2 separate regions of the Homo sapiens genome follow, and region 2 is linked to region 1. The links come from fine-mapping of genetic effects on gene expression. A gene starts in region 1. The other region holds a variant in brackets. All regions are shown on one strand. Distances are from middle to middle.

What was found. PIP is the estimated chance that this variant, and not a neighbour inherited with it, causes the effect.
Region 2: its variant is the best candidate, but not a certain one, in a credible set for the expression of ITGB8-AS1 in non-classical monocytes (Schmiedel 2018, PIP 0.51).

Annotation. Positions count from the first base shown.
Region 1 is chr7:20,329,519-20,333,905 of GRCh38, reverse strand. ITGB8-AS1 (ITGB8 antisense RNA 1) reads left to right here and starts at 2,144. Exons shown (of 3, transcript NR_110120.1): 1 at 2,144-2,256. ITGB8 (integrin subunit beta 8) reads right to left here and starts at 3,006. Exons shown (of 14, transcript NM_002214.3): 1 at 1,973-3,006. The coding sequence starts at 2,099. RefSeq lists silencers at 2,046-2,285, 2,756-3,145 and enhancers at 3,226-3,515, 3,616-3,685, 3,773-4,385.
Region 2 is chr7:20,484,509-20,488,895 of GRCh38, reverse strand. No RefSeq gene overlaps it. Among named protein-coding and RNA genes, the nearest start is that of ABCB5, 130 kb to the left of the region's middle. RefSeq lists an enhancer at 1,331-1,830. The variant C/T (reference allele first, on the strand shown) is at 2,253.

The sequences.
Region 1 (4,387 bases):
ATTTGAGACTTGTAGCTATATCACAAAAGTACAGCAGTTTATGCTGATCTCTAATTTTCTGAGTTATACTGGCTATAATTTACATTTTTTGCATGTTTTTAACTGCCATGCAAATCAGTATACATCAGAAACCTTTGTATATTGACAGAGACTGGGAAAAGGATGCCTTGTTCTGATTTCAGATAAGCATTCCCTTTTCAGGTCTGCAGGTGCAAGTAGGCCCATTCATAATATTTCCTTCAAATCAGTTTTAGACACTGGGTAGAAATGCAATGCTTTTTCACAAGAGCCTGACTAATGTTTATAAGCACAGTTAATGGTTTTTAAAAATGTACTTTAAATAGTAAATTTTAGAGGCAAGTAGGACTTTTTCCTTTGCCTGTACGTTGGGAACAAAATATACTGTGTTAACACAAATTTTGGTCATTTTACTAGTGTGTATGTGTGTTTACTAAATCTAGAAAAGCACTTTATTACTTATTGAAACAGGATGAAATTATGCTTAGCGGAAAATTTGCTGCAACAAATGCATGTTTCTTCCATTTAAGAGATAACTGATAATGAATGTTACTTTTTCCTTTGCCTTTTCACTATTTTGAAATCAACAAACAAGCCAAAAAATAACCACAAGATAAAGAGATTTACTCTAATTTCTCCATTTCAGATAACTGAGCAAATCTCCCTGAAACAAATATTAGAAAACTGTATATGCAACAATTTCCTAAAGATAGCTGGATGTTTCCATATATCTCTATATCTATATATATAAAACCTACTTATAAGGTTATGATTTGACTGTTTTAATTAGCTTCAGGCAAAACCTTGACACTTTAAAGTATAGGAGTAAATTTTAACCTACAAAACAATTACAACTATTAATTAAACTCTCCTTGAGCCCAAGAGGTCAGAGAAAGGCTCTAATATAATTTAAGGACTTGGTGACCAAACAGAGAAAAAGTGAAATTAAAAAAAAAAAAAAAGAAAGTATGACAAGAGTCACTGCATTAGCAAAAATAAATGTTGGGCCTATATTGAAAACCATTAAGAACTCATCCTAAACTCATGATTCGTCCTATTACTTAGTTGTGTAATTTTCCAACAATCCAATCTGGTATACCACCTTACATTTGATTTTGTTTCATAAATCAAAAGTCCTAAAACACCTTCTCATATGCTATTTGACTTGAACTTTCCTTTGTGATTTAGAGAAGGCAGGTATTATTAATAAACCTCGTTTTACAGATGAGGACAATGCATTTCGTAAAGAGTTAACCTCTCCACATTAAGGTAGCTCTTACACAAATGGTTTGCCTGGACAGAAAGCTGTTAATCCTGGTTCAGAGTTCTTTCTGCTTCTCTGTCTCAGAGATTGATCTCAGTGAGGGATCAATTAGATAGTATTTTTTTTTTTTAAGCCGAAAGGATGATGACTTAAAGCATTAATATCCCTCCAGTGTGGGTAATTCATTCAGATTGAGCACTAATGATAGCAGAAACTTGTATGCTGTCTTTTTCTGGACTCAAAAATTGAAGACTACTCCCATTATAACCAACTTATCTACAGCCTCGAGTTAAAGGCAAGTTAGTCCTTAGTGGACCCAAATGTTAGAAAGATAGGGAGAACATTGTGTACAGACGATGCCCTTAAGAATGGACCAGGGCCCCTAAATGACTTCTGTAAACAGGACACCCTCTTTTCCAAAATTCCTTTCTATTAGGGCTTCCTCAACACCTAGGAGTAACACAGAGTGTCTCCTCTGATAATTAGTCCTTGCTGTCGCTCCAGGGCAGAAATGCTTGACACCTGGCCTCTAGGCCATCTGTGCTGGAGGACGCTGCCCCGCACCCGCCCCCTTGAAGTTCTCTGATGACCGCAACTTACCTGGCCGGGATGCTCTGGCCGGGCAGCTCTTCGTGCCAGCCCAAGACCTTTGGGGAAGAGAAGAAAACAAAACAAAACAAAACAACTTACCACCTTGGCCCAGTCCAAGAACAAGTGAAAACACCCAGGCTGCCCAGAGGAACGAGGCGGGACCTCGCCGGTCGTTTTGCAGGCAGACAAATGCAGCGGTAAAAAAAGCCAGGGCCGAGCCGCACATAATGCAAAACAGCCCGCCCCGCGCCCGCCGCCTGACTGCCTTCCGGACGCGGGCTCGCGCCTCCCGGGCGCACCTCGGGGCCCGCGGGCCGAGTGTCGCTAGGACGTTTTCCGCAGGCCTAGCAGGCGGACCCCGCGGCTCGGAGCAAGCGGTGCAGGTAAGCGGGCCCGGGCACCGCTCGGCATCTCAGGGCCCCTGCGGCCCTCCCGGCTCGGCACGGCGGGTCCCGCGGTCTCCGCGAGAAGCACCTCCTTCGACGGCCAAGGGCCCCGGCGGCGACTGGAGAGAGGGCTCTGCAAGGGCTCCGCAGCCTGCTCCGGGACAAAGAAAAGAGCTTTTGTTTCTCTCCAGCCGGTGGGGCTTCTGCTGCATAAATCAGCTTAGCGAAGAGCCAAACACAATCAAACCCAAACAAAGCCCGAAGCTGGGGGGGAAACCACCCTAATGTACATTCACTGGGTGATGCTGGATCTGTGGGAGGGGACGCCGGCGAGGTCGAGGGGAAAAAAGTCTGTGGCGCATCAATCAGCGCAGTTGCTTCCACAGGTGGGCAGGGAGGCCAACACCATTAGTTGCAGCTTTGCAGCCCCGTCTGCGGAGCAGCGGGCAAAGACAAGTCGGCAGCGTCCTGGCTGGCAAGGGAGGAAGCTCGGGATGCCAGCAACAGGGGGAGGCGGCTCTGGGAGCGCCCTAGAAGCACCCGCCGACACCCGCAGGCACAGAGCGAGGCATCGCCGCTCCCTCCCTGGCGGGGAGTGGGGCCTGCGGCTGCGAGCGCAGGAGGGGAGGTTCCGCGAGGTGCCGGAGCCCGGCTTCGCGGGGCGGGGGCTGCGTGCCCTTGTCCTTTTCGCCTCAGTGCGCGGCTCAGGCGTCCCGCAGTCCAGAGCCCGAGTTGCTGGCGCGCTCTGGGGTGCACACGGCTAGGATGCGAGAGAGGCGAGGCCGGCGATGGGCGGGAGAGGGGTGGTCCTGCTCTGGCCCCCCGGGGGGCTCCAGACCTGCGGGTAGCCGGGTGCACTCAGGGCAGAGAGTTGCTAGGAAACCTCCCCACGCTACCGGAGCGCCTCGCCTCGGCTGCCCGCAGGCGCGGCTGCAGCCCGGGCAGGAGCAGCAGTAACAGCTCGGAGCAGCGTGGGCGGGACATTGGTGAGGCATGAAGTCACCGCGGCCCACACTCGCTCTTTGTTTTGCTCACTCCAGCTCTTTCTTTTCCCCCTTGGCTCTGATAGTTGCCATTCCCATCGTTCACAAGAACTCCTGAAGCGTAGCCGCGCAACAGGAATGGCACGCCTCGTTCCCTTCTCCCTCCTCCCCCGAATCCTTGCACCCCAACGCTCGCGGGGGTGGTGGGAGACTCGCTCAGCGCCAGCGGCAGCTGCGAGCAAACCCCAATCTCTCACCCCCGCGCTGCTCGCCGCTTTGTTCGGAGATACTCACTGCCCCGCAGCTGCTGCATACAAAGTGGAGTCAAGGGACCTCCCCTGCCCCCAACGCCCTCTACTCAGCACTTTGCTTGCAGTTAGGAGCTCGTCCTCTACCCCACCACAAGGCTGCCCCGGTGTCCCTAGCCTTTGGAGAGTTGGACCAGTCTGCAGGGGCTGTTCCCGGAGCGACTGGCCGAGATTTCTCGCTGCTCCTTCTCTGCTCAAAACCTTAACCCTGGACTGGACAGCCCTGTTTTTCCCCAGCGTCTGGTGGTGGCTCTGGGCTTTTGCAAGTTACAGTGGGTCTTTTGATCTTAAGCGTCACCTTCCCAGTAAACGGAACAAAAAGTTACAGACAGCAGCAAAGCGGGGAGAGGGGAGCTAAGGAGAGAAAGTGGAAGGCACTTCTGCCTGCTTGCAGCTCAGAAATTTAGGTGCAAGTAGGGTGCGGGTGTTATGCTGGGCAACTGCCCGGAAGCAGCGCGCCTCCTCGGGTCCTGTCATTACCACGCTAAGTCGAGGGAGGGAACTCAGTCCCCCGCATTGGAAACAAGGCAGTGTTTCCAGTTTAACACGGTGATGGTTCTCTTTTCCCTCTAGGGGCAGGAGCGATTCCCATTCGAGGAGTTTGACCTCTCATTTTAATACAACACCCGCCTCTTAGAGGCAGCAGACCAGTCCAGCCAGGTCAAGGTGAAATATGCGGGAGTTTCCCCCCTTCTTATTTAATAGTTTCCGTCTCCTTATTTGTAGTTAAAAAAAAAAAAAAAAAAAAAGTAGGAGGCGCGGTCTCTCTCTTTCTTTCTGTTGACTGAGTGAATGGAAAGTACCTGGTTAATAAACCACAACATCGAAACTCCCCCT
Region 2 (4,387 bases), 150 kb before region 1:
TCTGATGAGAGTTCCCTTACAAGTGACTAGATGCTTTTCTCTTACTGTTTTTAGAATTATCTCTTTGTCTTTGACTTTTGACAATTTGGCTATAATGTGCCTTAAAGAAGACCTTTGGTTTATATTTATTTCAGGATCTCTGAGCTTCCAGTATCTGGATGTTTAAATTTCTTGCTAAACTTGGGATTTTTTTCAGCAATTATTTTATTAGTGGACTTTTAATGTTTTTTATATTCTCTTCCCCTTCTTAAATTCCCAACATTTGAATATTTGGTTGCTTTATTGTTTCCCACATGTCACAGAGACTTTCTTCATTATTTTAAATTCTTTTTTGTTTGTTTGTTTCTGACTGGGTTATTTCAAACGACCTGTCTTCAAATTTAGAAATTGTTTCTTCTGGCCAGGTGCGGTCGCTCACACCTGTAATCCCAGCACTTTGGGAGGCCAAGATGGGTGGATCACGAGGTCAAGAGATCAAGACCATCCGGGCCAACATGGTAAAACCCTGTCTTTAATAAAAATACAAAAAAATTAGCTGGGCGTGGTGGCATATGCCAGTAGTCCCAGCTACTTTGGACGCTGAGGCAGGAGAATTGCTTGAACCTGGGAGGTGGATGTTTCAGTGAGCTGAGATCATGCCACTGCACTCCAGCCTGGCAACAGAGTGAGACTCTGTCTCAAAAAAAAAGAAAAAACAACAACAACTTTCTTTCTTCTGCTTGGTCTGTTGTTGGAGCTCTCAGTTGTATTTTTTCTTTCATTTATTGAATTCTTTAGTTCCAGGATTTCTATTTGGTTCTCTTATGATATCTGTTCCTTGTTAAACTTCTTCTGTAGATCATGAAGTGTTTTTCTTATTTATTTGCATTATCTGTATTCTCTAGTATTCCATCAAATTTCTTTAATATAATTATTTTTAATTATTTTTAAGGCCATTCATGGATTTTCTTTTTGTTGGGACCAGTTACTGGAGAATTGTGTTTCTTTGGAAACATGTCATGTTTCCTTGCTTTATCATGTTTCTTGTTCCTTACATTGATATCTGCATATCTGGTGTAACTGTTGCTTCTCCTAATGTTATGTATTGGCTTTCACAGGAAAAGACATTTTCCTATAGATGTATCTATAGTGGCTGGGTAGGGTACTTTGGCTTTGATTCTGGATGAGTGCAGCAGTGTAGTCTCTGTATGATTTCTTTAGCTGTAATCAGTGTCAGTGGTGTCTGTGACTTAGTGGCTTAGACTTTAGTTGTTAGTGGAGGCTGTGGCAAGGCTCCACTGGGGACAAGGACATCAGGCATGATTTTTCTCAGGTCCCTGGGAGATGTTCCAGGCATGGTGATTAAGGGTCTAGGCAGGCAGGTCCTTTTGGCCTCCGGGTGACTTGCTTGGGTGGCAATGGTGGCTGGACTGAGTGGGTGAACGGGTGGGTTCTTGGGCCCCTGTTGACATCAGTGGTGGCAATAGTAATGGCGGTCCAATCCTCAGGCCCCTGAGTGGCATGTAGGGGGTGCTAGCAGTGGCGATGGTTGGCTTGGTGGTTCAGTTCTCAGGCCCCCTGATAGTGCACACAGGTACTTGTGGCAGTGGAAATGGGTGGGGCTGGCCTTTCCTCAGATCCCTGGATGGCACACATGTTCAACAATGGCAGTGGTGGGTGGGGTGGACCTGTCATTAGGCCCCCTGGTGGAATGCACAGGCCAGCCAGAGCAGGTTGAGTGGATCAATCCTTGGGACCCCAGACCATGCATGTGGGCACCAGTGGCACTGAGTGACACAGGCTTGTTCTTAGGCCCAGTGCCTGAGCAGGCCAGTCCCAGGCCCTCTGAAGGTACATACAGGAGGCTGGAGGAAGTGAGGTTGTTGTCAGCGGTAATCTCCTTAGGCAGTTAGTTCTTAGGCTGCAAGCAGAGTAAGCTTTGGCTTCTTTTGTCCTGGGGGCAGCTTTCCTAGTGTGCTGCACTGCCTGTTCCCCAGGGTATAGGACACTGCCTTGGTTAGAGTCCTTGAGACGCAGCCACATTGCTGGGTGCATCTGGTGGTGCAATGCTACAGTGCTCTGAATGGATGTTGGGGGATGGAAGTGGAGCTTCAGGAATGTGGAGATTCAGGGGCTGTTGGGCTCCAGAGGCGGATATAGCTGGTGGGGACTGGGCTCTCAAAAGGGCCCTGTGCTGCAGCTGCTTGGGTCTCAGGGGGTGGGTGGGACTCAGCACAAACCCCTTCTCTGGAATAATGTCACTATGTAGACTC[C/T]AGACATCTCCTGTACTAGTATCAGAGTCCATAAGGGCAAAGAAACTCTCTTGTGGCTAGGATTGCAGGGGTCCATAGTGAGAATATGAACAACTGGGGATATCTTAGTTGTCTTTTCCCTACAATAGAGAGTTTCTCCTAGCTTTGAACCAATCCCAGCCAGGCTGGCTGTTTCGCTTTCCTCTCTTTCTATGCCTCAGTTGTTCCCTGTCACTTTCCTGCTGAATTCCAGTGTTCTCTCTTAGAAGCTCTATTTGATGTATGGTTATCTACTTACCATTTTGGTCCTTCTTTGTGGTTAATCAGTCATATGGAATTCCACCCTCTGCCCTTCATTTTAAAGTTTGTTACTATGTATATAAACATTAAAAATTGCAATTTTTCTTTTTCAAATTCAATTTTTAGTTTTTTAGTGACCATTTTTATCTTTTCTTTTCCTTTTTGGGACAGAGTCTCCCCCTGCTGCCCAGGCTGGGGTGCAGTGGCACGATCTCGGCTCACTGCCAGCTCCACCTCTCGCATTCATGCCGTTCTCCTGCCTCAGCCTCCCGAGTAGCTGGGACTACAGGCACCTGCCACCACGCCTGGCTAATTTTTTTGTATTTTTAGTAGAGACGGGGTTTCACCATGTTAGCCAGGATGGTCTCAATCTCCTGACCTTGTAATCCACCTGCCTTGTCCTCCCAAAGTGCTGGGATTACAGGCGTGAGCTACCACGCCCGGCCGACCATCTTTATCTTTAATATTTTTTTGCCTTTATGTTTATTTTGTCCGGTTTTAATATAGGTATTCCAGCATTCTTCAGTTTAGTATTTATCTGATATATCTTTTTCACTCTTTCCACATTTTCTTTCATTTCTTTATGATAATGGGACTCTTACAAACAAAACTTAACAGGTTTTTAAAAATATTGAATTTAATATTACAAAATTTATTTTAAATGAAGAATTATTTTAAATGTATAATGATCACTAATATATGTTATTGGTTCTATTATTTTATTATGTGTTTCCTATTTGCCTAAGCTTTTCTGTTTCTCCTTAACTCTTTTCTTACTAGTTTATTGTTGTTTTTTCATTTTAATTATGAGTTTTTTTAACCCATACAGAAATTTTATATTTGTTTGGTTAAATTTATTGATTTTGGGAATTGCATTTGGATTTTGAATTTATAGTTGCCATTTTTCATTCTCATGACTAGTGTATTTCAACATTTCTGAGAAATTCTTACCCTTTATCTATTCTAATTTTGCTTCATCTCAATTTCCTTTATTATTTCTTTTGGAGCCCTGACTAGATGTGTTATCTTAACCTATTTTTAATTTCATAGGTTTTTTATTTTTTCTGGGCTACATTTTGGACAATTTGTTTGAATCTGTTTACTAATTTCTATCCTAGATTTTTATTTGTGTCTGAAAGTCATCTTGGCATTTAAATCCAATTCTTTAAATTTTATTCTCTACCAGAGATTTGACAGACAATAGAGGTGCTGTAAATTCAGACTGTAAATCTCTATGAGGGCAATTTTGTGGTTATGAATTCTCCCTTTTCTCTCCATCCCCACCTCATCTTCCTCTATGACAAGGCTTGAGACAGGCAAATTTCCTTGCTATCTCCTCCTAGGTAACAGGTTTTGCTTCTTCTTCATCTTTATACTGCTGGCAGAAAATCCTATTAGATTTCCCACTTTTCTGAGTAAGTGCTAAGCATTATCACCTGTTTCCTGGATATTGTGCAGTCACTGGAGGAAACTCAGGTGTTCAGGGTTGGGCAGAAACCCTCAGAGGTGACTTTGGCACTGGCTTATCTCCTGAGTTTTCTGTGCAGCAATGGGGAGGTCCCACAAATCCTTTTGTTTGTTTTTAACTCAGTGATACACTTAAAATTTAAACTATTCATATGTACTTATTCAGCTTTTTGGTTGATTTTATCTAGAGAGTAGTTTAAGGTTTCTGGTGGTGTTAGAAAAGAAAGTTTTGACCTAATTTCTTACATCTGTAATTTTACTTCCTCTGCAAAGTCATTATTCCTTAGTGAGTTGTATGTTTTTAGTGGGTGGCTCTGTTGTCAACTGATATTACCATATCCTTTTGGCTATGAGTCAGCTAGCCGGGGATTAAAAGAGAATTATTTTTC